Homo sapiens: one gene and its partners. Each later gene encodes a partner of the first gene's protein in a complex. Each region holds a gene or a part of one and is shown in the gene's direction. Other genes may lie near its edges. The genes, in order: STK26, YWHAZ, PPP2R1A and MOB4.

Evidence for each region.
Region 2: the proteins of STK26 (region 1) and YWHAZ are in contact, whole or in part, in a crystal structure (PDB 5XY9), measured with the Homo sapiens proteins. Residues at the interface, in NP_057626.2 of Homo sapiens: Arg316, Glu317, Asn318, Asn319, Thr320, His321, Pro322, Glu323, Trp324, Ser325; in NP_001129171.1 of Homo sapiens: Lys49, Asn50, Gly53, Ala54, Arg56, Arg60, Lys120, Arg127, Tyr128, Leu172, Asn173, Val176, Tyr179, Glu180, Asp213, Leu216, Ile217, Leu220, Asp223, Asn224, Leu227, Trp228.
Region 3: STK26 (region 1) and PPP2R1A share a complex: the UniProt entries of both Homo sapiens proteins name them as parts of the core of STRIPAK complex.
Region 4: the proteins of STK26 (region 1) and MOB4 are in contact, whole or in part, in a crystal structure (PDB 5YF4), measured with the Homo sapiens proteins. Residues at the interface, in NP_057626.2 of Homo sapiens: Phe326, Thr327, Thr328, Val329, Arg330, Lys331, Lys332; in NP_056202.2 of Homo sapiens: Gln99, Gln105, Trp106, Ile107, Phe108, Leu109, Ala111, His113, Lys114, Thr115, Pro116, Glu118, Tyr124, Arg161, Arg162, Arg165.

Annotation. Positions count from the first base shown.
Region 1 is NC_000023.11:132,019,113-132,026,317, forward strand, and holds the start of STK26 (serine/threonine-protein kinase 26), read left to right. Parts: upstream 1-4,189; 5' UTR 4,190-4,295; intron 4,296-4,395; 5' UTR 4,396-4,505; coding exon 4,506-4,547; intron 4,548-7,205. UniProt on the Homo sapiens protein: Serine/threonine-protein kinase that acts as a mediator of cell growth. Modulates apoptosis. In association with STK24 negatively regulates Golgi reorientation in polarized cell migration upon RHO activation.
Region 2 is NC_000008.11:100,915,993-100,921,020, reverse strand, and holds the end of YWHAZ (14-3-3 protein zeta/delta), read left to right. Parts: intron 1-268; coding exon 269-328; 3' UTR 329-4,498; downstream 4,499-5,028.
Region 3 is NC_000019.10:52,221,035-52,228,064, forward strand, and holds part of PPP2R1A (serine/threonine-protein phosphatase 2A 65 kDa regulatory subunit A alpha isoform), read left to right. Parts: coding exon 1-99; intron 100-985; exon of another isoform or gene 986-1,064; coding exon 1,065-1,207; intron 1,208-4,682; coding exon 4,683-4,774; intron 4,775-4,930; coding exon 4,931-4,947; 3' UTR 4,948-7,030. UniProt on the Homo sapiens protein: The PR65 subunit of protein phosphatase 2A serves as a scaffolding molecule to coordinate the assembly of the catalytic subunit and a variable regulatory B subunit.
Region 4 is NC_000002.12:197,511,603-197,519,072, forward strand, and holds the start of MOB4 (MOB-like protein phocein), read left to right. Parts: upstream 1-4,463; 5' UTR 4,464-4,484; coding exon 4,485-4,544; intron 4,545-4,695; exon of another isoform or gene 4,696-4,753; intron 4,754-7,470.

The DNA of each region.
Region 1 (7,205 bases):
ATTTGGTCCCAGCCACAACACTGAGCTAAAATCTTCAGAGAACAATGATTTTCAAGTCTGTTTCTTGGTTAGTAGCTCCTAATGCAAAAAGTGCGGAGCATGGTTTCTCAAACCTTATCATTATTGACATTGTGGACTGAATAGTTCTTTCTTGTGGGGACTGCCCTGTGCGTCGTAAGATGTTTAACAGCATCCCTGGCCTCCACTCTCTAGATGCCAGTAGCACCTACCTGCCTATTTGTGATACCCAGAAATGTTCTCCAGAAGGCATAATTGGTCCTAGTTGAAAAACATGCCCTTATTTCACTGCCGCCTGTATTAAAGTTTGGCTATTTCCATCTACCTACACTTTAGCTAAGAACCAGTCAATTCAGTAAATATTTGTAAACATGGGTAAAGTTAAATATTTAATACAGGTTGAGCATCCCTAATCTGAAAATCTGAAATCTAAAATGCTCCAAAATTGGAAACTTTTTGAGTGCTGACATGATATCACAAGTAGAAAATTCCATACCTGACACCTTTGCTTTCTGATGGTTCAATGTATACCAACTTTGTTTCATGTACAAATTAAAAATATTGTATAAAACTATCATCAGGCTATGTATATAAGGTGTATCTGAAGCATAAACGAATTTAATGTTCAGACTTGTGTCCCATACCCAAGATATTACGTATATGCAATTATTCCAAACTCCAAAAACATCCAAAATCTGAAGCACTTCTTGTCCTAAGCATTTTGGATAAGGGATACTCAACCTGAATAGAGGGTATGACAAATGTCAGGAAATTGAAACCAGGTGCCAAATGTAAATTATTAAGTTTTGAGGCCTCAAGAACACTGTCTAACTTGAAATTCACTAACCTTACCTAATCTGTGTATAATGTTACTCAAAACCTTACCTAATCTGTGTATAATCTTATTTTATTTATATGGTTATTAAGTATTCACAGCCATTCAGATCACATCAATCAAGCAGGTACCAAATCCTTTCTGAGGTGCTATGTTACACTCTACGTGTGACCAAAAAGCATAAGTTGTGTCTCTCCTCAAGAAACGTTTTCCATTAAACTACGGGAATACACTGTAATATATTTTCAGACTCTGGGCTGACTTTTTTTTTTTTTTTTTTTTGGAGATGGAGTCTCGCTCTGTGGCCCAGGGCGGAGTACAGTGGCATGATCTCAGCTCACTGCAACTTCTGCCTCCCAGGTTCAAGCAATTCTCCTGCCTCAGCTTCCAGAGTAGCTGGGATTACAGGCACACACCACCATGTCCAGCTAATTTTTGTATTTTTAGTAGAGATGGGGTTTCGCCATGTTGGCCAGGCTGGTCTCAAACTCCTGACCTCAGGTAACCTGCCCGCCTCGGCCTCCCAAAGTGCTGGGAACAGGGGTGAGGCACCACGCCTGGCCTGGGCTGACAATTTGAAGTAAAATATTTAAGTTTCCTTTGTGTGTGTGTGTAACAAAAGCGTACTTGAATTTCTTGTCATTTTATTTAAGAATTTGAGAAATAATCCAGTTCAAAGTGGAAAAAAAGTTTCTAATGCTCATAAAATTTGAATTGTTTTCAAATGTTGACACCTTCACAAGATTTAATTTATAGATACACACACACACACAGACACAGACACACACACACACACACACAGGAAAAATCATTTAAAAGCCCACAAGCAATCCCATGTAAAAACTCAAGTGATCTCTATCAATTATAACAACAACTGATGCTTTATTTAATAGCAGTAAACCTAAATAAAGGCTAAAAAGCTCACTAAGATCTCAAATGCAATGTCTTTCAGGAAATGTCTCAATATTCCAGGTCTCAGCATTAAGCTTTTATTCTTCCACATAGTTACATAACTCTGGCCCAGAATGATGTCAGAGAAAGTCATTTCTCTGATATGCTTAATTTACTTATCTATCAAAATTATACAACTGGCTCATAAGTAGTTGTGAAATTAAACTAGCAGGAAAGAATTTTGGAGACTAAATAATGAAAGATGTAACACACAATAAACTGAACAATTTAAATGTTCAGTAAGGGCAATGCCTAGGGGTTTAACCTGACATCAATAAAATATATAGTGTATACATTATGCACCTAGTAACCTCAGTGGAGAATTCAAAAGAAGTTCATTCATTCATTCAACAATTATTTATTGAGGGCCTACTACATGCCATGAACCTAGTCTCTGGGGATACAGCAATGGACAAAATGTATAAAAAGCTTGCCCTCAGACTCCTGCCATCCTACCTGAATCATTCTCATGTAAGAGAGGCTGGATCTCTGCCCTCAAGGACCTAATATGGGCACACAAAACAAATGAAATATATGAAATAAGAAGAAAGAACTACAGTGTGAGCGCTGCTCACATTGGAGGAGTTTGAAGGAGGGCTTGGAGCAACTAGGAAGGGTCAATGGAGGTGAGATTTGAGACAGGTCTTAAATGATGGAGCTTGATTCAGACCCTTGCGACTTAAAAGTGTGATCTAAACATCATCACCATGTGAGAGCTTGTTAGCATTGCAGAATCTTGGGCCCAGTCCAGACATGGGAGATAAAAATCTGCGCTTTTGAGGGAGCAAAAGAACCCTCGGATTTCTATGGACATTAAAAGTTTAGGTGGCACTGCAGGTTTCCGGTCAGGCTGGCAATGTTGTGAGCTGGGTTGGTGGGAAATCGAGACTAGATTGGAGCCTAACATTAGGTTAGAAATAGTGAAGGGCTGGACTTGGGGAACTAGGAGTAAGGAAAATGCAATTGTACCTTTTATCATCATTAAACACAAACAGAAACCATAGAGAAAGTAGTAAGTTTATCACCAGTCAGAGGGACCTGCGTCTGAATTCCCAGCTGTACCACTTCTTAATTGCGTGACATTTCGGTCAAATTATTTAACCTGGTTGAGCCTTTTTCTTCATCTGTAAAATGAGGGGAAATCAATAAGACTCCAGAAGGCCCTTGTACAGGTTCAGTAAGGTATTAATAACACATAGAAAGCACTTAGCAGTCCCTGGCACAATGAAAATAATATCCATTAATAATAACGATATTGATAAGAATTATATACTATTCTCTGAAAAAGATTTAAAAGGAAGAAGAGAAACTATCTTTTACCACTAGAGGCCCCCCACCGTGTGGTGCGTAGAGACCCATAACAAATTTCAAGGTAAGGAACTTCATCTTCATTTTAAACTGGCACTCGACTATTACTTTTTTAAAAAGTAATTAACCCCTTACGTGTTCCCAAAGGTGCCTTCATAATGAAATTCCTGTTACTATTATTACCAGTGTTACTGTCGCTACTGTTAGAGTACTCTCAAAAGAGCCTGTCTCCCTCTCCTGGAGTAGAACTTAAAATGGGGCGGAGGCAGGGAGTTACCAAAACCACTGCAGTGTATGCTGATTTCAATAACCTGTACTGCTAACGATCCAATCTCATTTCCCAAGCCTCTACTATCCTCATTAATTTTTCTGCCGATGTACCATCTGTTTTCCAATTTCCCTCTGCCTTACACGTGCAGAACTTGTGGTAGAGAGAAGCCCTAGTTTGGCCGTTCTGCAAGGGATAGCCCAGGAGGTAGGGGGAACCTTAAGTTGAAGTCACCTGAAGCATGTTTGGGGTCAGGGAACTCGGAAAGCAAGAGTGTGGCCACAGATCTGCCCAGAGGCGCGACCCCCAGCTGAGGAGACCAGATGGCGGGAAAAAGCGGGGGTCCACCGACTCCGCGGCTATCTGTAATCCTACCCTTGGCCAGGCCGGGGAGCCAAGAAAGACTTCCAACACTCCCCAAGTTTCAGCTCAAGTCGTCTCCGAGGCTGCGTGTGCCCCAGCCTCGCACGCCTCCCTGCAACGTGGCCGCATCTGGGGCGCCCTCATACCCTCAGGGTTTCCCAAACTCTTCCATTCTCTTCCCAGGCCCAGCCATGTCCCAGGTCTCCGGGTCCCCGGGTTCTCCTCTCCGCGTGCCGGGAGAGTCTCCAGCTTCTCAGACTCCAGCAACCCCAGCCAAACCTCTTCGCTGCCTGGAGCCTTGGCTCCCGCGACACCGCCCGGCTGCGGGGCGGGGGCAGGGCCAACGGCGGAACCGCCCCCAACCGCCTCCCAGGCCAGGCGAGCAGGCGGGTGGCTGGGGCGCCTCCACCTCCTCTTCCTAAAGCGGCGAGGCGCAGAGGAGCGGCATCACTCGAGCCCAGGTCCCAGCCACCACCACTCACAGCGCTCGGCGTTCAGGAAGAGGAGCAGCAGCGGAGGCGGCTGCTTCAGCGGCGGGCGGGCGCCAGAAAGGTAGACTGAGTCCCAGGGAGCTGCGCCGCTAACAGCCCACCTCCTAGCCCCGGGCTACGCGCCGCCAGCCCAGTAACCCCACTTTTGTGTGTCCTCCCAGGCCCCGATCGAAAAGCCTGGGAGGGCCGCCGAACTACCCCCGGAGGGAGGAGCCAGTCCGAACCCAAGGCGCCACCGCCGCAGAAGCGGAGCGAGGCAGCATTCGCCTCCATGGCCCACTCGCCGGTGGCTGTCCAAGTGCCTGGGATGCAGGTGAGGAAGCGCAGGCCGCCCCCGCCGCCCACGTGACTGCTTGGGAGCCCGGTGCGCCCTCGGTGCTGGGCACCGGCGACAAGGGACGGCCCCAGGGCTCCCCTGAGGGCAGGGCCGGTCACTATGGCCAGGTGACCTGGGAGTAGGGCTGGAGGTGTTTCCTGGTGTGTAGGCTAGGTAGTGCTCTTCGCTGGGAAGGCGAGGCGGGACTGGAGCGCGCAACTAGGTGGAGATTGAGGGCGGTTGGGGGTATAAAAATAGGCCAGAGCCACAGACACCTGCGCCTGCTGAGCTTGGCACGGTTGGGGATGGGGGGGCGGAACTTAACCTGGGAGAGATGGAAGTGCCTTGGAATTTGTGGGGTATAACGCGAGTAGTGAGTGCCCTACACCCCCCACCCCAAACACACACTCAAGTTGGGGCGGGGCAACACCAGGGGTGGCGGCGGCGGCGGCTTGAATTGGGCTCTTCCTGTGTGCGTAGGGCTAAGAGAGAGGTGACCTCTTTCTCCCTTTCGGTACTGCTGCTTAAGGGCAAAGTTGTAGCTTGCTCCCCGACCTAGCCCAGCCCATAGTGTGGCGTGAGAAATGCTGGTTCTGTTCAGAGTCACTGAGGTGATGACTTCTCAGCCCCCTCCGTGCCTTTCCCACAAGATGACTGTTACATGTGGTTAAAGGAAGCTTTTTGTCTTGGACAAGGGACTACTGCATGGGACCCAACTTGTTACTCGAAGTCTACCCAGCCCAACCCCCTCCCATTATATTTTCATTTTATTAAAGATAAGCTATGTCAGAAAACTTTTTATGCTGTTATGTTTTTAAATCGGTGCATTTTAGGCTATCTGCTAAGTGTTATCCAAATTTACTAACTTTTTAAAGCATTCATGTTCTATTTTTTTTTCCTTTGCTAGATGGCCTAAACAACCCATTTAGGGGCTAAAACCACTGAAGCCTCAGTCTTTCATGATCTAAAATGTGAAAACAAACTTTTTTGAAGTTCAAAAATAAAATGTTTATAGTAAATAGCTTATATTTCTAGTAGAAATCAAAGAGCTGTAGACTGGGGCCTCAATTTACTTATTGATACATGGAGTTTTTTTTTTTTTTTCAGTGTTCTCATTTTATGAATGTCCACAAAAGTGATTTTTAAATTCTTTCCCAAAATGGGATTTATTTGTGCACCTAGAACTCTTGGTGTGTCCTAAACACCAGACATTTCAGCTGCATTTAGGGCAAGTCTGGGTTGAGTCTCAGGAAGTTAGTGTATATTAAATAAAGAGAGAGAGAGAAAGGGAAATAGGAAATAGTAGGGCTTAAAAAAAAAGATTAATCCACTCAAGCCTTGCAAAATGCCTTAAACTTTCTTCCTCTCAGGCGGCCTCCCCTCTCCTTCCCTCCTTCTTTTCCCCACGCACCCTGCCCCACACCCCATTCATTCAGTTCTGCCTTTGATTGTATCAAGGGAATTCATAGTTCACAATACTAAGTACAGTTTTGCTGTTTGATCTGGGAAAAAGTGACATTTTCTCACCGTGCTCTTCTTTCCATTCTGTGGAGAGTAAAACGATGCACATGTGAAGTTTGTCTCTGAGGGTCTCCATGCTTCTCGCTCCATTGTGTGCGCGAGCCTGCGTGTGTGCGTCAGCAGAGTGAGTGCCTCCAGTTCATCAAGTTTGTGATTCTGGGGAACTCTGTGTGCTGAGGGGAAAATGGTTTCTGATTTTTATTTTATTTGTCTTGAACTTATTGAATTTATATGGTTTAGGAACTGCTTGCTGTTCAGTATTTCTGATTGCTCCCTGCTTTTAATTATCTGAGTTGCCTATCTCTTGAATTTTTAAATCTTAATTAATGTGGATTCGAATGTGAATCATATACTTTAAATTACAAATTCTGCCTTTCACTCTGTGCCCTCTGAGTTGTGATTACTTTGTCCCACCTAATTTGAGTAGGGCAAACATCTCAACGTTAGCAAAGAAGAGAGGAATCTTTTTTTTTTTTTTTTTTGGTCATTCTCTTCATCTTAATGAAATGGTAAATTCTTAACTTCTTATTTCCATTTTATTTCTAATGTAGTTCTTAAGCACTTTGTGCAGCACACAGTTTTTTCCATAGTTGAAAATGTACAATACCTTAATAATAAATTTGATAGCATGCAGTGTGACTCTTGAAGCTAGACTATTTTTATTATTGTTATGTAGCAAAATATTGCAGATGAGATGCAGAAATCTATCGTGAGCTTGTAAAATTCTCCTAGAGTTTTATGAAGGCGTTAGGAGCAACTTTTAGACCTTTAGAAAACTTCAGTTAGCCATGTGTTCTTGAAATTACTGTATAGTGTTTCCACAAATCAGGGTGAGGTAGCCGACCAGCCTATAACTTTTTAACAGTTTATTTTAGAGAATTATGAAGATTGATGGGAAAAATGATTTTTCCAGAAATACAAAGAAAATTACTTTATCCACAATTATTTTCTCCCTCTGAGGAGAGACGTGAAGTAGAAGCCCAGCTACCTGTTCTATCACTTAAGATTTCCAGCATTCCTGACTTTCAAACAAAGAAATTGCTGTTGCCACTAGTTTAAAATAGAAAAGAAACTTGGAGTGAAGAAAGAAAACCCAGGATTTCGTCCAGTTCAAACTCTTCCTTATGAATTAGT
Region 2 (5,028 bases), on another chromosome or scaffold:
TCACCTTCTGTGGATAACCAAAACTTTCCTGTATCTGAAGGTTATTTGAAGGCAACTCTGTGGTGTACTTAACCTGCTTATATAGTGGTTACAAAAAAAGTAAATTTGTATATTGAGATGTTTTTGTATCTTGAAGCTAAGTGATGCTGCTATCTTTTTAAGAATGCTTTCCAACTAAAACATTCAGGTATCTTGGCACTTATATGAAAACGCCCCCCCCCCCCCATCCCACTGAAACTTGCTGAAAAATCTTTCCTTCTTTTACCAGTTGTGGACATCGGATACCCAAGGAGACGAAGCTGAAGCAGGAGAAGGAGGGGAAAATTAACCGGCCTTCCAACTTTTGTCTGCCTCATTCTAAAATTTACACAGTAGACCATTTGTCATCCATGCTGTCCCACAAATAGTTTTTTGTTTACGATTTATGACAGGTTTATGTTACTTCTATTTGAATTTCTATATTTCCCATGTGGTTTTTATGTTTAATATTAGGGGAGTAGAGCCAGTTAACATTTAGGGAGTTATCTGTTTTCATCTTGAGGTGGCCAATATGGGGATGTGGAATTTTTATACAAGTTATAAGTGTTTGGCATAGTACTTTTGGTACATTGTGGCTTCAAAAGGGCCAGTGTAAAACTGCTTCCATGTCTAAGCAAAGAAAACTGCCTACATACTGGTTTGTCCTGGCGGGGAATAAAAGGGATCATTGGTTCCAGTCACAGGTGTAGTAATTGTGGGTACTTTAAGGTTTGGAGCACTTACAAGGCTGTGGTAGAATCATACCCCATGGATACCACATATTAAACCATGTATATCTGTGGAATACTCAATGTGTACACCTTTGACTACAGCTGCAGAAGTGTTCCTTTAGACAAAGTTGTGACCCATTTTACTCTGGATAAGGGCAGAAACGGTTCACATTCCATTATTTGTAAAGTTACCTGCTGTTAGCTTTCATTATTTTTGCTACACTCATTTTATTTGTATTTAAATGTTTTAGGCAACCTAAGAACAAATGTAAAAGTAAAGATGCAGGAAAAATGAATTGCTTGGTATTCATTACTTCATGTATATCAAGCACAGCAGTAAAACAAAAACCCATGTATTTAACTTTTTTTTAGGATTTTTGCTTTTGTGATTTTTTTTTTTTTGATACTTGCCTAACATGCATGTGCTGTAAAAATAGTTAACAGGGAAATAACTTGAGATGATGGCTAGCTTTGTTTAATGTCTTATGAAATTTTCATGAACAATCCAAGCATAATTGTTAAGAACACGTGTATTAAATTCATGTAAGTGGAATAAAAGTTTTATGAATGGACTTTTCAACTACTTTCTCTACAGCTTTTCATGTAAATTAGTCTTGGTTCTGAAACTTCTCTAAAGGAAATTGTACATTTTTTGAAATTTATTCCTTATTCCCTCTTGGCAGCTAATGGGCTCTTACCAAGTTTAAACACAAAATTTATCATAACAAAAATACTACTAATATAACTACTGTTTCCATGTCCCATGATCCCCTCTCTTCCTCCCCACCCTGAAAAAAATGAGTTCCTATTTTTTCTGGGAGAGGGGGGGATTGATTAGAAAAAAATGTAGTGTGTTCCATTTAAAATTTTGGCATATGGCATTTTCTAACTTAGGAAGCCACAATGTTCTTGGCCCATCATGACATTGGGTAGCATTAACTGTAAGTTTTGTGCTTCCAAATCACTTTTTGGTTTTTAAGAATTTCTTGATACTCTTATAGCCTGCCTTCAATTTTGATCCTTTATTCTTTCTATTTGTCAGGTGCACAAGATTACCTTCCTGTTTTAGCCTTCTGTCTTGTCACCAACCATTCTTACTTGGTGGCCATGTACTTGGAAAAAGGCCGCATGATCTTTCTGGCTCCACTCAGTGTCTAAGGCACCCTGCTTCCTTTGCTTGCATCCCACAGACTATTTCCCTCATCCTATTTACTGCAGCAAATCTCTCCTTAGTTGATGAGACTGTGTTTATCTCCCTTTAAAACCCTACCTATCCTGAATGGTCTGTCATTGTCTGCCTTTAAAATCCTTCCTCTTTCTTCCTCCTCTATTCTCTAAATAATGATGGGGCTAAGTTATACCCAAAGCTCACTTTACAAAATATTTCCTCAGTACTTTGCAGAAAACACCAAACAAAAATGCCATTTTAAAAAAGGTGTATTTTTTCTTTTAGAATGTAAGCTCCTCAAGAGCAGGGACAATGTTTTCTGTATGTTCTATTGTGCCTAGTACACTGTAAATGCTCAATAAATATTGATGATGGGAGGCAGTGAGTCTTGATGATAAGGGTGAGAAACTGAAATCCCAAACACTGTTTTGTTGCTTGTTTTATTATGACCTCAGATTAAATTGGGAAATATTGGCCCTTTTGAATAATTGTCCCAAATATTACATTCAAATAAAAGTGCAATGGAGACCTTGGGGTCTTTATTTCCAGGAGAAAAGATACCTTCTGCATCTAGGGCAACAATCCTTTTCCCTCGCAGCTCTTTCTTTTACCTCACTTACTGATTTCTCCTGACCCCCAAGCCAAGGAGGTAAAATAATTATATATATATATATATATATATATATATATATATAAAGTAATTATATTTTATAGCTAGACTGAAGAGGTGGGAATTTTTTTGTTGTTTTTTTTTTTTTTGGAGACAAGAGTCTTGCTCTGTCACCCAGGCTTGAGTGCAGTGGTGCGATCTCGGCTGAGTGCAACCTCCGCCTGCTGGGTTCAAGCGATTCTCCTGCCTCAGCCTCCCAAGTAGCTGGGATTACAGGTGCCCGCCACCACACCTGGCTAATTTTTGTGTTTTTAGTAGAGACAGGGTTTCACCATGTTGTCCAGGCTGGTCTTGAATTCCCGACCTCAGGCAATCCGCCCATCTCAACCTCCCAAAGTGCTGGGATTACAGGCATAAGCCACCGCGCCCAGTAGAGATGTGATATTATTCAAGTAAATAAAACCTGAAACTTGGCACATTTGCCTATTTAATGTGCATCAGTCATCTGAACTAGGTTGATCCTGGAATAATGAAAACACTTCACTAGTATTAACTAATGTTTTCTACATAGTAGTTCCCAATAGATTAAGGAAAATTTCCAACCTGAGATTCTTTGTTTTGGAATTTGAATAATGTGTTTGTAACTATTCCTTGATTGTCCCAAATCCAGGCTTTACGTCTGCTTTTGTCAATGTAACATCCTAGTGCCAGGAAATTGGAAAATCCAATGACTTTTTGTGTGTAAAGTACTGGAATTTTTTTGTTCGTTTGTTTTTAAGACGGAGTGTCAACTCTCGCCCAGGCTGGGGTGCAGTGGCCTGATCTCGGCTCACTGCAACCTTCTCCTCCCAGGCTGAAGTGATTCTCCTGCCTCAGCCTCGCAAGTAGCTGGGACTGCAGGCATGTGCCACCACTCCTGGCTAATTATTTGTATTTTTAGTAGAGAGAGGGTTTCACCGTGTTAGCCATGATGGTCTCATTCTCCTGACCTTGTGATCCGCCCACCTCGGCCTCCCAAAGTGCTGGGATTACAGGCGTGAGCCACTGTGCCCACCCTGGTATGTTTTTTTTAAATTGGCCACTTAAGAGTTGTCCTTCAGAAAGTGGAGCAGCAGTGTGATTAGTAAAAACGATGGGCTTTCCTGCAGCTCTGGCTTATGGTCTTTGTTTTTCCAGTTAACAGCTGTTACTTCATGCTGTTATAGGGGGTGGGGGGAGAAAGAGAAAGAATATGTCTAGTGGCTTAATTTTGGGGCTCAATTTGTTTATTATGTTTTTCCTGCAAAAGAGTCACCAGTCTTGTCATGGCTCAATGCATATTTTAAAATGAGTCAAAGCCAATTTGGAAGCTGCTATCTTAGGTTATTTGTAGTCAGGCTTCAAATGGAGAGTGAAACTTTGACTTTGAAAACTGGTGCTCTATGCTCAATGATGGTCTTACACATTCCTCTAGGGAAAGGTCAAGAAATAAATTTGGCTTGATTGTATTCTCTCATTTACCATATAGGAAATACTATGGTAGAACTGAAAATATGTACAATAGTAAAGTGGTGGCTGAGACTGGGCACTTGGAAAATAGACTTGGATTCTTTTCTAAGTGTGAAACTAATTAAATACTTTTATGTGACTGGTAGTAGTCACAGTCTCCTTGATTGATTCTAGTTCCTTTTCAAAGTGGAGAGACCTGAATATAGATTGTAACAGGATGTCCAACCTTGCCAGACAAGCAGGCATATATGTCTCTGGGATGCAGAAGCAGTTACAAGTTAATATATTTAAGCATAATGTTAGCCAATCCTAGGTGATACCAGAGATGTGAATATTTGATCATATTTGAGTTCATTCCTTGAAAGTCCAAACCTAACTGGTCTTAATTGATTACTTCTTAGTATTCCGAATTTTAGAATTTAAAACCCTATGAATTTTCAGTTTGTGCTTACATTTTCTAACATTGGATGTTTGCTTTGGCCAGCTGCTGTTCTGTGTGTTTTCTTACAAAGGCTTAGAGATTCTGGCTGGGTGTGGTGGCTCACGCCTGTAATCCCAGCACTTTGGGAGGCTGAGGCGGGTGGATCACCTGAGGTCAGGTGTTTGAGACCAGCCTGGCCAACATGGTGAGACCCCATCTCTACTAAAAATACAAAAAATTTAGCCGGGCATGGTGGTGCGTGCCTGTAATCCCAGCTCCTCGGGAGGCTGAGGCAGGAGAATTGCTTGAACCCGAGAGGCGGACGTTGCAGTGAGCCAAGATCATGCCATTGTACTCCAGCCTGGGCAACAAGAGCAAAACTCTGTCAAAAAAAAAAAGGGCGGGGGGCGCTTAGAGATTCATGTTTGAGTGAAGATTTGCAGAATGGGACCCAAATGGATATACAGCACAATCAAGATGCAGGGAATTAAGAACTTAACATGTGCTTGTAGGTTTGGGTTTGGGGGCTATGTGGGAGTATAAAAAATAGGCTATGTCTAGACTCCCGAGGGGAACTCGTTTTAAATGCCTA
Region 3 (7,030 bases), on another chromosome or scaffold:
GGGAAGGAGTGGGCCCATGCCACAATCATCCCCAAGGTCTTGGCCATGTCCGGAGACCCCAACTACCTGCACCGCATGACTACGCTCTTCTGCATCAATGTGAGCCTTCCACCTGCCTGCTGGCCCATCCCTAGGGAACTGGAGCGCGTGGGAGAGGAGGGATGCTAGAGGGTTCCCCAAGGGAGACACCTGGCTTGGGAATGGAGACATGGAGTGCATCTTCTATCCAGAGATGAGTCCTTGGGGAACTGCAGGCAAGGGGGTGGGGCTCCCAGGGTCAGGGTCATAGGGCCTCTGGGACTGGGGACTTGGATGGTGAGGGACCCAGGGCCTGGGAGACTTGACCTGTTGGAGCAGCGATCTCAAGCTTTATGAGCACCCCTCTCCTTCCCTGAGAAATGTGTGTCTCTATCTGTGGTGCGTTGGGTGAGTGTATGGGCTCTAGGTCAGACCTAGTTTTAAATTCTGGTACTGCCATATATTAGCTATGGACCTTGGATAGTTACCTAACCGATGCTTTGGTCTTCTCATTTGTAAATAATTCATACTGTAAAGAATTCATACTGGTAATCACAGCCTGGTGAGCGTGAAGATTAATCAGGTTATACACGCACAGGGCTTAGAACAGTTATGCTACAGGTAGGAAGTGCTCCTGTCTATTTGCTTTTCCTACGATTATAATTATCTCATGTACTACTTATTTATGTGTAAACCATACACAGGGCTAGAAAGGAAGGGATTTAAAAATAAATATAACTAAGTGTTCTGATCATTTCTTCCCACGCCACTCTCTGGAGAGCATTGCTTTAAGGAGGGATCCTAGGGCTTGGTAATTAAGGTCGATCTCCAGAATAATTAAGGGAAGCCTGAGGACAGAGAAACTGGGACATGGTGTTAGGATGGTGTTAGTGGAGTTGGGAGATTCACTCCACTAACTGAGTCACCCGTATTGCTCAGCCTCTGTGGGGCCTGATGATCACCAGAGTGGCCTGGTCAGAGGCAGCAGGAAATGAGAGTTAGCCAGGAGCTTTGCATACTCACCCCTGCCACTCACTGGCCCCCAGGTGCTGTCTGAGGTCTGTGGGCAGGACATCACCACCAAGCACATGCTACCCACGGTTCTGCGCATGGCTGGGGACCCGGTTGCCAATGTCCGCTTCAATGTGGCCAAGTCTCTGCAGAAGATAGGGCCCATCCTGGACAACAGGTGAGGTCTGGATACTCCCCCACACACTGGCAGGGGCTTCTTGTGGGCACCTTAATCTTTGACCTTTGAAGGTAGAGCCCAGGGTCAGAGGCCTGGCAGCGCTCCTTGCTTGCTGTGTGACCTTGGCTCCCTTCCCTTCTCAAGGTGTGTTTTCTCAACTGTAAAATGAACATCACAGCATGAAATAGAAAGAGGGGGTGATGGGTTGGCAGTCCTGTATACTAGCAACAAGTCATTAGAAAATGAAATCACCTTATGTTTTATATGTAAGTATGTGTATAATTTATAATTGCACCAAAAATATCAAATAGCCAGGAATAAATTCAATGAAAGATGTGTATGTAACACCTCTAATGTAAACTGTAAAACACTAATGTGAGAAATTAAAGCAGACCTGACCAAGGTGGGCGGATCAGTTGAGGTCAGGAGTTCACGACCAGCCTGGCCAACATGGCGAAACCCCGTCTCTAGTAAAAATACAAAAAATTAGCCGGTGCGGTAGCACTCACCTGTAATCCTAGCTATTTGGGAGGCTGAAGGCAAGAGAATTGCTTGAATCCAGGAGGTGGAGGTTGCAGTGAGCTGAGATCATGCCACTGCACTCCAGCCTGGGCGATAGAGCGAGACTGTCTCAAAAAAAATTAAAGCAGACCTACATAATATTCACGGATGGGACAGTTCCCTGAACTCATCTTTAGATTCAGTATAAGCCCAATAATCTTAACAGGTTCTTTAGTGGAAAATTGACACTTCTAATGAACAAAGTTGTCTGATTTACACTACCAGAGACGAAGACTTATGACACCACAATAATTAAAATAGATGTGAACACAAGCATATTTAAATCGCCCAATAGAATGGAATCAAGGGTACAGAAACAGTCCCACATGTGTTTAACAGTAGGCATCTCTGCAGTTCAGTGGAGAAATGTATGTTTTTTAAAAAACATAGCTGAGTCAATTTGATATCCATTTAGGAATAAAAGAAGGCTCGCCTCAATGCATAAACAAATTAATTTGAGATGACAGACCAGAACCAGAAAGATTTTAAAAATAAAGGACCTAGAAGAAAATGTAGGAAAATATCTTCTTGAGTTAGCGTAGGCACAGATTTGTTAAACAGCAAACCAGAGGAAGTGATGGGTAAGTTGACCTTCTGTAAAATGTAACGCTGTTTCTCAAAAGACAGCATTTTGAGAGTAAAATGCAAGCCACTGACTGGAGGAAGATGTTTTAATATATGTTTCTGAGAAAGGACTCATCCACAATACCTGTCTACAAATCAGGCAAGACAAGAAAGAGATGGGGAAAAAGACTTGAATAGGCACTTGAAAAAGGATCTCCAAATAGCCAGTAAGCATATGACAAGGGTGTTCAGCATCATTAGCCTTCAGGAAAATGCAAATTAAATCTCAGTGACATATGACTACACGCCTCCCAGAACAGCCAACATTAAAAAAGACTCAGTGGTGCAAATGGTGAAGACATAGAAGAGCTGGAACTCTCATCCATTGCACGTGGGGCTGTACATTTAGGGTTTGATCACTCTGAAAACGGGAGTGGATCTGGAGTGGAATTTGGTGAAGCTTGTTATACAAACAGCCTGTGAAACAGCCCTTCCACTCCTGGGTCTCTATCCAGGAGAAATGAGTGCTGTTTCTGTCAGAAGAATGTTCATGGTAGCTTTATTCATAGTAGCCGTAAAAATGGAAACAACCTCCATGTCTGTCCACAGTAGAGTAGATAAATTTTAGTTCATTCAAACAGTGGAAAACTATTCAGCAGTGACGAAACAAATGCCTGCTATAAGCAGCAACAGGTGACTCTCACAGATACCATGTTGAGTGAGGAGCCAAAATCAAGAAAACACACCATTTATGTCAAGTTCAGAAACAGGCAGAATGAAGGAATCGAGATGATGGAAGTAAGAATAGTGGTTATTTGGGGAGAACAGGGAACTGTCAACTGAAAGTGTGGGACCCACAACTGCAGATTTCTCTTTCTGTCTGTTCCAGGACACAACCTCAGCTTTAGTTTCTCTCCGAAGTCCCCCTCCGTTTTCCAAAACAATTGACTCTTGGTGCAGGCGGATTTCCCTGGGCCCCATAGATGAGAGTGGATGCCTCCTCTGGGCTCCTGGAGGACCAGGAACTTCCCCTTGGGGCCACTTACCACTCCCCTCTTACGTACCAGTTTGGTCTCTTCCTCCTGGCCCGGGTGCCTCATGGCAGAAATCAAGAGTGATTTAGCTCTGTATTCACTCCTAATACATTGTAGGCCTCAGTGAATATGTGTGAAATCAATGAAAGATACCCATTTGCTGGGCCTCAGAGACTTGGGGGTTCTGAGATTCTGTTCCACTTTCCCAGCCTGCTCTGATCTCCCTGTTTGGGGCCCCAGTCCTTGTTTATCATACTTCTGACCTTTAAGTAATTGGTTGGTTGGTTGGTTTTTTGCAGTTTGTTTGGTTTTCCTTTGAGGCAGAATCTCGCTCTGTCGCCCAGACTGGAGTACAGTGGTGCGATCTCGGCTCACTGCAACCTCTGCCTCCTGGGTTCAGGCAGTTCTTGTGCCTCAGCCTTTCAAGTAGCTGGGATTACAAGTGTGCACCACCATGCTTGGCTAATTTTTGTACTTTGAGTAGAGATGGGGGTTTTCCCATGTTGTCCAGGCTGGTCTTGAACTCCTGGCCTCAAGTGGTCTGCCCACCTTGGCGTCCCAAAGTGCTAGGATTACAGGCTTGAGCCCCCGTGCTCGGCCTTGAGTTTACCTTTTTTTTTTTTTTTTTTTTTTTGAGACGGAGTTTCGCTCTTGTTGCCCAGGCTGGAGTGCAATGATGCAATCTTGGCTCACCACAACCTCCGCCTCCCAGGTTCCAGCAATTCTCCTGCCTCAGCCTCCCAAGTAGCTGGGATCACAGGCGTGCACCACCACGCCCTGCTAATTTTGTGTTTTTAGTAGGGACAGGGTTTCTCCATGTTGGTTTGGCCAGGCTGGTCTCAAACTCCCAACCTCAGATGATCCACCCACCTTGGCCTCCCAAAATGCTGGGATTACAGATGTGAGCCACCACGTCCGGCCTGATTTTACTTTTAATTGACTCATAATTTTATATATTTATGGGGGTATAGTAGTGTTTCAATAATGTGTGCAAATGTGTAATGATCAAATTAGGATAATTAGCATATCTATCACCTTAAATGTTTACTGTTTCTTTGTGATGAGAACATTCAAAATCTTCTCTTATAGCTGTTTTGAAATATGCAAAATGTTATTATTAACTATGGTCACCCGCCTGTGCAGTGATCAGAGATTTCTAATTCCTGTGTGTGCCCTGGATTCTTGAGACTCCTCCCACCTTGGGTTTGGTGTATCCGTGTCTGTGTACACTCTCTTGCCCAAGAGCCCTGTGCCCACCTGTTGCCCCAGTCCATCCTGGCTCACCCTCTCTCTCCCTGTCTCCTTTCGCTTTCCAGCACCTTGCAGAGTGAAGTCAAGCCCATCCTAGAGAAGCTGACCCAGGACCAGGATGTGGACGTCAAATACTTTGCCCAGGAGGCTCTGACTGGTAAGACCTAGAAAGCACGGAGCCCTAGCAGGAGGGTGGACTTTGAGGACAGGCACTGGGCCTGTGGGCAGCAGCTTCTGGGAGGGGGAGGTACCTTGGCATTGTGGGCAGAGAGAGGGCTCTGGTTCTGATTCTTGCCTGTTCCTGTTTTCCTAGTTCTGTCTCTCGCCTGATGCTGGAAGAGGAGCAAACACTGGCCTCTGGTGTCCACCCTCCAACCCCCACAAGTCCCTCTTTGGGGAGACACTGGGGGGCCTTTGGCTGTCACTCCCTGTGCATGGTCTGACCCCAGGCCCCTTCCCCCAGCACGGTTCCTCCTCTCCCCAGCCTGGGAAGATGTCTCACTGTCCACCTCCCAACGGGCTAGGGGAGCACGGGGTTGGACAGGACAGTGACCTTGGGAGGAAGGGGCTACTCCGCCCACGTCAGGGAGAGATGTGAGCATCCCGGGTCACTGGATCCTGCTGCTGTAATGGGAACCCCTCCCCCATTTACTTCTCCACCTCCCGTCCTCCCCATCATTGGTTTTTTTTTGTGTGTCAACTGTGCCGTTTTTATTTTATTCCTTTTATTTTCCCCCTTTTCACAGAGAAATAAAGGTCTAGAAGTAGTTGGTCCTCTGGCCTTAGTCATCAGCTTGGAGGAGGGGGCACCACCCCAGAGCCACAACATCTGCGCTTTTCTCTGGAGAAGATCTTGTTACAGGACCCATTATACCCCTATGTCCCGAAAGAATACTCTGGGGATCCCCCCAGGAGTGCTGCTGGCCTTTGGGGTAGAGGGTCCATGAGGTGCTCTGGGTGGTGTCCTGTAGTGCAGTTCAGATTCATAGATGTCGGCCGAGTATTTGGGGGGTTAAGAGCAGGTGCCTTGGAACCAGACTGCCTGGGTCCAAATTGTGGCTCCTTCAGTTAATAGACGTGTGACTAGGAGTAGCTTGTTAAGTCTTTATGAGCTCAGTTTTGTATTGTGTAAAATGAGAGTTACAGTAATACCTAGATTGCAGGGTGGGTGGCGAGGACCAAGTGAATTAGTACCTGGAAAGTGTGTAACAGTTTCAACATGAGAAGTACACAACATGAGAAGCAGAGTTAGCTGTACATTGCCAGAGAACCCCCTGTGGGCCATTTCCTGTGTTCTTGAAGAAGACTTGGGCTTGGACCCTGTCCCCAGGAGGTCTCAGAGTAATCAGGACGGTACTAGGGAGAGAACTGTGGCAAGATAGATCAGTTATCTCGGTATCTATTCTCCCCTTCCTAATGTAGAAGCTCTGATTTTTAACTGGGCAGATGACTACATGGATTCAAGGTATTTTCCTAGTGTCTCTTGAAATTAGGTGTGGTATTGTGACCAAATTCTAGCCAAAAAGATGTTGAACAGAAGTGGTATATGCAGCTTCTAGGAAGTGTTCTTAAGGGGGAAGGCGTCATCCCCCACCTTTCCTCCTTCCTGCACTCTGGAATGTGGACCAGATGGCTGGAGTAGGAGCTGCCACCTGGGGCCAGAAAATGATCTTAGGCGTGAAGGTCAAGTAAGGCAGGACAAGAGAGAAGGAGCCTGCCTCCCCGAGGCTGTGAAGAGCCATGCCAGTACTGTCACCTGGGAGAATTAAACTGGTCAAGTGCCTGTTCGTTTAGGGTTTCATCACTTGAAGGTGACCGGAATTCTAACTGATGGAGGGAGGGGCCCAGAGCACCCTGGAGAAAGGAGCAAGGGACGTATGGCTGGTGGTGTCTGCATGGAAGGGTTTCACAGAGGAAATGATGCTTGAGCACATTTTGACCCAGGTGGTGGAAGGGAAATGTGGCTTTGAGTGACAAGGTGATTTCACCAGCTCAGCCTTCATATTACCACATCCCTACCCTTTGTTAGACTTTATTGTGCCCTAGGGGATGAGGCTGAAGGAGACCAAAAAGCATCTTTAGAAATTTCCATTTATGCCCTGGGCGATAAACTCTCTCCCAGTTGAGAACTACTGCTCTAGAAATGTGAACACACGTGTAACCAAACGTCAAAGTCTGACATTAAACTTTGACTTTCCCCATGGTTAACGCTGCTGGTCCATTGTAACAAGAGTGCAGTGGACCAGCAGCCTTTGCATTCTCAGGAGCTTGTTAGAAATGCAGAGCCTCTCGTCCCTGCCCCGACCTGCTCAGGCAGAGCCTTCATTTTAACAAGATGCCCAGGTTCATCTGCACACTGAAGTTAGAGAAGTCCTGCCTTAAATACTAACCCAGTTTTTCTCTCTTGAGAGTG
Region 4 (7,470 bases), on another chromosome or scaffold:
GGCCAAGGCAGGAGGATCCTTTGAGGCCAGACGTTTGAGACCAGCCTGGGCAACAAAGTGAGACAATCTCTTAAAAAAAAAAAAAAAAAGCTGGGCGTGGTGGCTCACGCCTGTAATCCCAACACTTGGGAGGCCGAGGCGGGTGGATCACAAGGTCAGGAAATCGAGACCATCCTGGCCAACGTGGTGAAACCCCGTCTCTACTAAAATATAATGGTGCACGCCTGTAGTCCCAGCTACTCTGGAGGCTGAGGCAGGGGAATTGCTTGAACCCGGGAGGTGGAGGTTGCAGTGAGCTAAGATCACGCCACTGCACTCCAACCTGGCGATAGAGTGAGACTCTGTCTCAAGAAAAAAAAAAAACAAAAAAACAGACAGAGAATAATGTTCAAATAATACGTTGAAGATGTATGAAACCATACATAGGCACTGACTTGTTCAACTGTGAATATACATTCCCATGCTTCCCTGCTGCCTCAACTTTGCTCGGCTTGTAATGAAATCTCCTGTAGCTCTGCACATAAATGCTATCCACACTTTAAGACACATGACAACTACATACATCATTCACAGTGTGCCAACTTTGCTTTTAGACTGGCTTCCTTTAAGCCAGAATGGCTGCTGCAGGCCCATATTGGGTGATGTCCATTGGCAGAAAAAAGAGAGCATCTCTTTTGGTATCTTCTGAAGAGCAAGTAAATCTTTCTCCAAAGTGCTTCATTACATCGTTTCACATTTCTTTTCTTTGTTTTATTTTTTTTTGAGACAGGATCTCACTCTGTCACACAGGCTGGAGTGCAGTGGTGCAATCATGGCTCACTGCAGCCTTGAACTCCCAGCGTCAAGCAATCCTCCCATCTCAGCCTCCTGAGTAGCTGGGACTACAGGTGTGTGCCACCATGCCCAGCTAATTTTTGTATTTTTTTGTAGAGATGGGGGTGTATGTGGGGGGGGTTATACTATGTTTCCCAGGCAGGTCTTGAACTCCTGGGCTCAAGCAATCTTCTCACCTCAGGCTCCCAAAGTGCTGGAATTACAGGTGTGAACCACAGAGGCTGGCCCTTTCACACTTAGGCCAACAGGAATTTATCCCTCAGCTAGATATGGGTTTACCTTTCCCTGGTCATAGCATGAGAGAAGAACACTGAGCAAGATCAGAGGCTGTTTGCAAAGAGCATGTGAAAGGGGCTGCTTCAATACTTAAGGCGTTCAGCCTTGTACTGTAGTAATCTACATAAGATGCTTTCCCATTAATTTCAAGGCTCTTTGAGGAAAGCTTGTCTTATATATCTTCATGTTTTTCAGCACTTAGCCCAGTGCCTTGCACATAATATGCATTAACTCTTTTTTTTTTTTTTTTTTGGAGATGGAGTCTCACTCTGTTGCCCAGACTGGAGTGCAGTGGCTCAATCTCGGCTGACTGCAATCTCCGCTTCCCGGGTTCAAGTGATTCTCCTGCCTCAGTCTCCTGAGTAGCTGGGACTATAGGCGCACACCACTGTGCCCAGCTAATTTTTGTATTTTTTTTTTTTTTAGAAAAGACGGGGGTTTCACCATGTTGGGCACATTGGACTCAAACCCCTGACCTCGTGATCCGCCCACCTCGGCCTCCCAAAGTGCTGGGATTACAGGCTTGAGCCACCGCACATGGCCTGCATTAACTCTTTTATTTGGATTTAAAAATTCCCCAAAGTGAATTTTTATTGGATAATTTTTTTTAATGTGTCAATGATTTGAAGCTCATGGATAATTTGAAATTACTTATGATACTTTGGCTTTATAAAATATTTTCTTCTAAAGCTTCAAGGTTCCATATTTAATTTTATGCTTGCTTTCATACTTTATGGGGCAGAGGGAAAGAACTGCTATGCACAATCTTCATTACACATGAAGAAACATTTATTTGATAGCTTGTTCAATGTCTTAACAGTTAACAGGCAAGAGAATCTAGATTTTCCGAATCCCAGTCCAGAGCTATTCCTACTGGTGCATATTGCCTTTAAACAGATCACTCCACTCCTCCTTTACCTGAAATATTCAAGTATTTCATGTAACTGTTATTGTTGATCATGCTTTTTGTTTTTCTTTTCTCTCTCCTCCTACCCCGGACAAATTAACCCTAGTTATAAAATTTGTCTTGTTTGGAGGTACGTAATCTACAGGCTGACAGAGGAATGAAAATGTGAAGGTTATGAGCTAGAAACATTCTATCCCTAAAGAACAAGGTCCTTCCTATGAACAAGGCCAGGGTTGACATCAGAATGCAACTTTATTGGACTTTTCAAAAACAACGAATGTGCATTTTGTTCCCGAATTTAACACCTACTCATTCACGTTTTTTGTTGGTTTCAGATGGGTTGAAACAGTTTAACAAATCTGGAATTAAGAGAAAGTGAAGATGATTCCATTCAACTATAGGTGACTATTTACAGCTCAGGGAAATATCACACAATCTGGGAAATGTAAACGTAATCCTTGCAGTAAGTGAGGCGAGTTATCTATAGACCAAGAGGCCTCCCTGGGACTCTGCTATCTCATAGACCCAACCCATCTCTCTAAGGGAGGCAACATTTACGTGTCACTTGTCCTAGGCTCTCGTTGCATTTAATACAAGTTGAGCATCCATAATCTGAAAAGTCCAGAATCTGAAATGCTCCCAAATCTGAAACTTTGAACATCCACATGATGCCACAGGTGGAAAATTCCATACCTGACCTTCTGTGACCGGTTGCAGTCAAAACTTTGTTTCACGCACAAAATTATTTGAAGTTTTATAGGCGCCTGCCGCCACGCCTGGCTAATTTTTGTATTTTTAGTAGTGATGGGATTTCACCATGTTGGCCAGGCTGGTCTGGAACTCCTGACCTCAAGTGATCTGCCCCCCTCAGCCTCCCAAAGTGCTGGGATTACAGGTGTGAGCCACCGCTCCCGGCCTATTTAAAGTATTGTATAAAAGTAACTTCAGGCTATGTGTGTAAGGTGTATAGGAAACAAATGCATTTCACATTTAAACTTAGGTTCCATCCCCAAGAAATCTCATTATGTATATGCAAATATTCTAAAATCCAAAATAATCAGAAATCTGAAAGTGTTTTGGTCCCAAACTTTAAGATGAGGGGTACTTAACCTGTATAAGAATTTGTGATTTGCACGTCTCTGTTGCTGGAGTCAAGGCAATTTGTAGTGAAGGACTGAGCCTTATCATACTTGTACATTAGTGCCTACCATATAGTGGGGCTTAATGAGTATCTGTTGAACGAATAATCTTTTCATATGTAGACGCTGGTTCTGGGAGGGCAAAATTAAGTCCCTATTCTTGAAGAGTTACCAGTCAATACATCTTCCAGAGAGAACCAACTTCCTGTTGTTAAACCCTTCAATGCCTAGTTCTAAGTCACTGACAATTACTCAGCTAGAGACCCACTCAACCTCTCCTCTCCTCTCAAATTCCATTTCTGGAAGCTGTTACATGGCCCTTCCCTCAGCATTCTCAATACACCTTCTATCTAGGGACACTTGATGTTTTCTTCTTTTGGAAATCATGCTACTGTATGCGTTTTTTACTTTTTGAACTGTCTTCCCATCTGCTATCCCAAGGCCTCCCTCACCCCAGATAAAAGATTCAAGGTTTCTAAGCAGGAAAAAAAGTTTGCGAAAATGCTGTGGTTTCTTAAGAGAGAACACTTAAAATTTGCAACAAAGGAAATGTGGAATCCTGTAAGATGTAAAACCCTCACCACCTGTCAAGGACTACTAATTTCCTCCTCCTGCTTCTGACTTGAAAAACACGAGCTAAATCTGTCTGCCTAACGCACAAAACCAGATGTCCACTCTTCATCTCACATAATTGACATCTGCGTCTTTTATCTACGTAAACAAACTTGTCATTGAAAAAGTCCTTGGCTTTGAAGTCGCCGGATGGCGTAAATAACACTGACACTCAAATCCCCCGTCTGATTTCAGATTGGGTCGATTTCACGCAGGTTCTATAGAATTTGCCAAGACTGCTGGCCTGTTTTCTACCCTGATTCCTTAGGTGGCTTCTGGGACAGAATTACGGTTCTCTAAGTATTTGCTTGCAGGTGGGTTTACTGAAACGGTCGCCACTATACGAAGTTCGTTCTTCCCGTGTAACTAACGAGAGCCCATACCAACGTGCAACGCAGCCGTGCACACTGCCGCAGCGGTCGCTGCGATCACGACCTTTCAAACCGCCCCGCAGCCCTCGCAAAGAGGCTCGTGGCGCCCGCCTTCCGGTGCCTCAGTCCCTGCCAGTAGCCACCCGACGCCGTCCGGCTGTTCCTCGTTCGCCCTCTCCCTCCGCCTAGCCCGCTTCTACCCGGACGGCTCCCGGCGCAGGCTGCAGCTGTTCCGTCAGCTGCCGCTCCTCCTCCCAGACGCAGAGCGCCGCTCTGCCCCGCCCCCCGCGCAGGCTGCCGTCCCTACATCCGGGTACCGACTCCAGCCGCCTAGACGCTGGCACTATGGTCATGGCGGAGGGGACGGCAGTGCTGAGGCGGAACAGGCCGGGCACCAAGGCGCAGGTACCATGTCTGCACTTTTCTTGTCGGGCAACTAGGTGCCGAGCAGTGCTGCGCCCGGAAGCTGGCCGCCACTGCGGGGAGGTTGGGCCGAGGCGGCAGGCGGGCGGGCTGGGGCACTGGTGCCCGGCCTGCTCTTCCGGAGCTGCAGCCCCTCAATTTGGCTGAGGCGGTGGCGGCCGCCGTGAGGCCTGCGGAGCTCCGACCCAGGGGTAGGCGTGAGGGGCGGGTGGGGTCTGCTGGTGGTACCTGCCTGCCGAAGCCCTGGGCTGCGAGCCTGTCAGCAGCAACGGCTTCTTCTCGCCTTGCCCCTGAGCCCCAGCTGACTAGCATTGGAGGGGCGCGACCAGCCTGGTGGAGACCCCCGGGGTTTCCTGAAGGTCGGGGCCGCTGAGGTGGGAGGGGGTGTAAACACAGCCTACCTCGACCCGGCGTCCAGTTCCTACCTGGCCTGGGAAGTACCTACCCGTTTCCTGCCATCCAGCTTGTCTAGCCGGATCCGGGTGCCGATATTCTCCTCCTTGTTTCCCTTTGACCACCTCTCCCTGCCGCTTTCCCTGGAGCTGTTCTCTGGTCCAGCAAGTTTTCATCACTAAGTTGTGACTTGTTAGATGTCATTCCTTGCTAATATGCGTGAAGCATAGTCAGAGAATGAACTGATTATAATTTTGTCAGCTTTTTTGTAGGGCATTATGTGTGGTAAATTGGTGCTTGATTAGGCATTGTTTCTTAGGGTTTGGAAAAGATGGGATGCCTCACATTAAAAATAAATAAATAAAATTGGCATCCAGACTTGAACTGATTAATTGCTAGCCGAAATGGCTTGCTATAGACTAGATGCTCTGAAATCGGAAGAGATGTGTTTATAAAATGTTAAAAAGTGATGCAAATGAAAATTGAAACAAAACAATCGTGGAGCTATGATTGTATGTCTGAGAATAGATTTTAATTTCTTATACAGAATTATGGAAAGAACACCTTTCGAAGGGGGCATACAGGTATTGATTACCTCCCCAGATTCATGTTACAGATAAGGAAACTGAAGCCCAAGAGAATTAAGTGGATTTGCCCAAGGATACATAGTCTCCTGATTCTTAATTCACTGGTGACCTGTTCTCTTTAACAAGCTGCTTCTAGTGCTGAATTTCAGAGAAAATTTTAAAGTCTTATTTTGGAGTCACATTAAGCTGTCAGTTATTCCTACTGACAGTTTTGTTTTCATACTACTGGAAATTTATCCGTTACATATGCTTGCTTTTTACCGTTTCCACACTTTTCTTCCTCATGCTCTTTTCTCAGATACCTTTACATCTTATTCTGTGGAAACATTGTTTCTGATTACATTTTTATGTTCAGAAGTAGACTTTTCTGTTCATATTCTGAGAGTCATCTCATTTATTCATAAGTTCTTAATTTTGAAAGGTTAGAAAATAAAATATTTAATATCGTAACATACTTGCTATGTTGCTGTAAGTCACATAGAAGAAAACTTATTGTCTTTTTTTTTCACATTGTCATGGATCAAGGTTGTTAGATAAAATATAACAGAAAAAGGATAAAAAATGAAAAAGACTGCTTACGCCGTAGTTTGTCCTATCTTGTTTATCACATGAATTTCGTTTAGTGAAATGGATCTGTTCTAAAATGATATATTTAGAACCGTATCTCCTTCCCTATTGGGTCAAAAGAAAAAAAATTAAAAACTATAATAGAGGGCTGGGTGCGGTGGCTCACGCCTGTAATCCCAGCACTTTGGGAGGTGGAGGCAGGCGGATCATCTGAGTTCAGGAGTTCAAGACCAGCCTGGCCAACACGGTGAAACCCCGTCTCTACTAAAAATACAAAAAATTAGCTGGGCGTGGTGGCGGGCGCCTGTAATCCCAGCCACTCGGTAGGCTGAGGCAGGAGAATCGCTTGAACCCGGGAGGCGGAGGTTGCAGTGAGCCGGAATCGCGCCATTGCACTCCAGCCTGGGTAACAAGAGCAAAACTCGGTCTCAAACAAACAAACAAAAAACTATAGGAGAGTAGGTGGAGTATCTTCCTACATTAAAAAAAAAGTTGGTTAGACTGGAATATAGGCACATAGTTGGTTTTCTTTTTTCTTTTTCTTTCTTTCTTTCTTTTTTTTGTTTTTTTCTTGAGACAGAGTTTCTCTCTTGTTGCCCCCAAGCTGGAGTGCAATGGTGCGATCTCGGCTCACTGCAACCTCCACCTCCCGAGTTCAAGCGATTCTTCTGCCTCAGCCTCCCGAGTAGCTGGGATTACAGGCGCGTGCCACCACGCCCAGCTAATTTTTTGCAGAAACTGGGTTTCACCATGTTAACCAGGCTGGTCTCGAACTCCTGACCTCAGGTGATCTGCCCGCCTGGGCCTCCCAAAATGGTGGGATTACAGGCGTGAGCCATTGCACCTGGAGGTTTTTTTTTTTTGTGTGTGAGGCAGAGTCTCGTTCTGTCGCCCAGGCTAGAGTGCAGTGGCACGATCGCAGCTCACTGCAGTCGCTGCCTCCCAAGTTCAAGTGATTCTCCTGCCTCAGCCTCCTGAGTAGCTGGGATTGCAGGTGCCTGCCACCACGCCCGGCTAATTTTATTTTTATTTTTATTTTTATTTATTTTATTTTATTTTTTGAGACAAGAGTCTCACTCTGTCGCCCAGCCTGGAGTGCAGTGGCACGATCTTGGCTCACTGCAAGTTCCACGTCCCGGGTTCACGCTGTTCTTCTGCCTCGGCCTCCCGAGTAGCTGGGACTACAGGCGCTAACCACCACGTCTGACTAATTTTTTTTTGTATTTTTAGTAGAGATGGGGTTTCACTGTGTTAGCCAGGATGGTCTGGATCTCCTGATCTCGTGATCCGCCCGTCTCGGCCTCTGAAAGTGCTGGGATTACAGGCATGAGCCACTGCGCCCAGCCAATTTTTTTTGTATT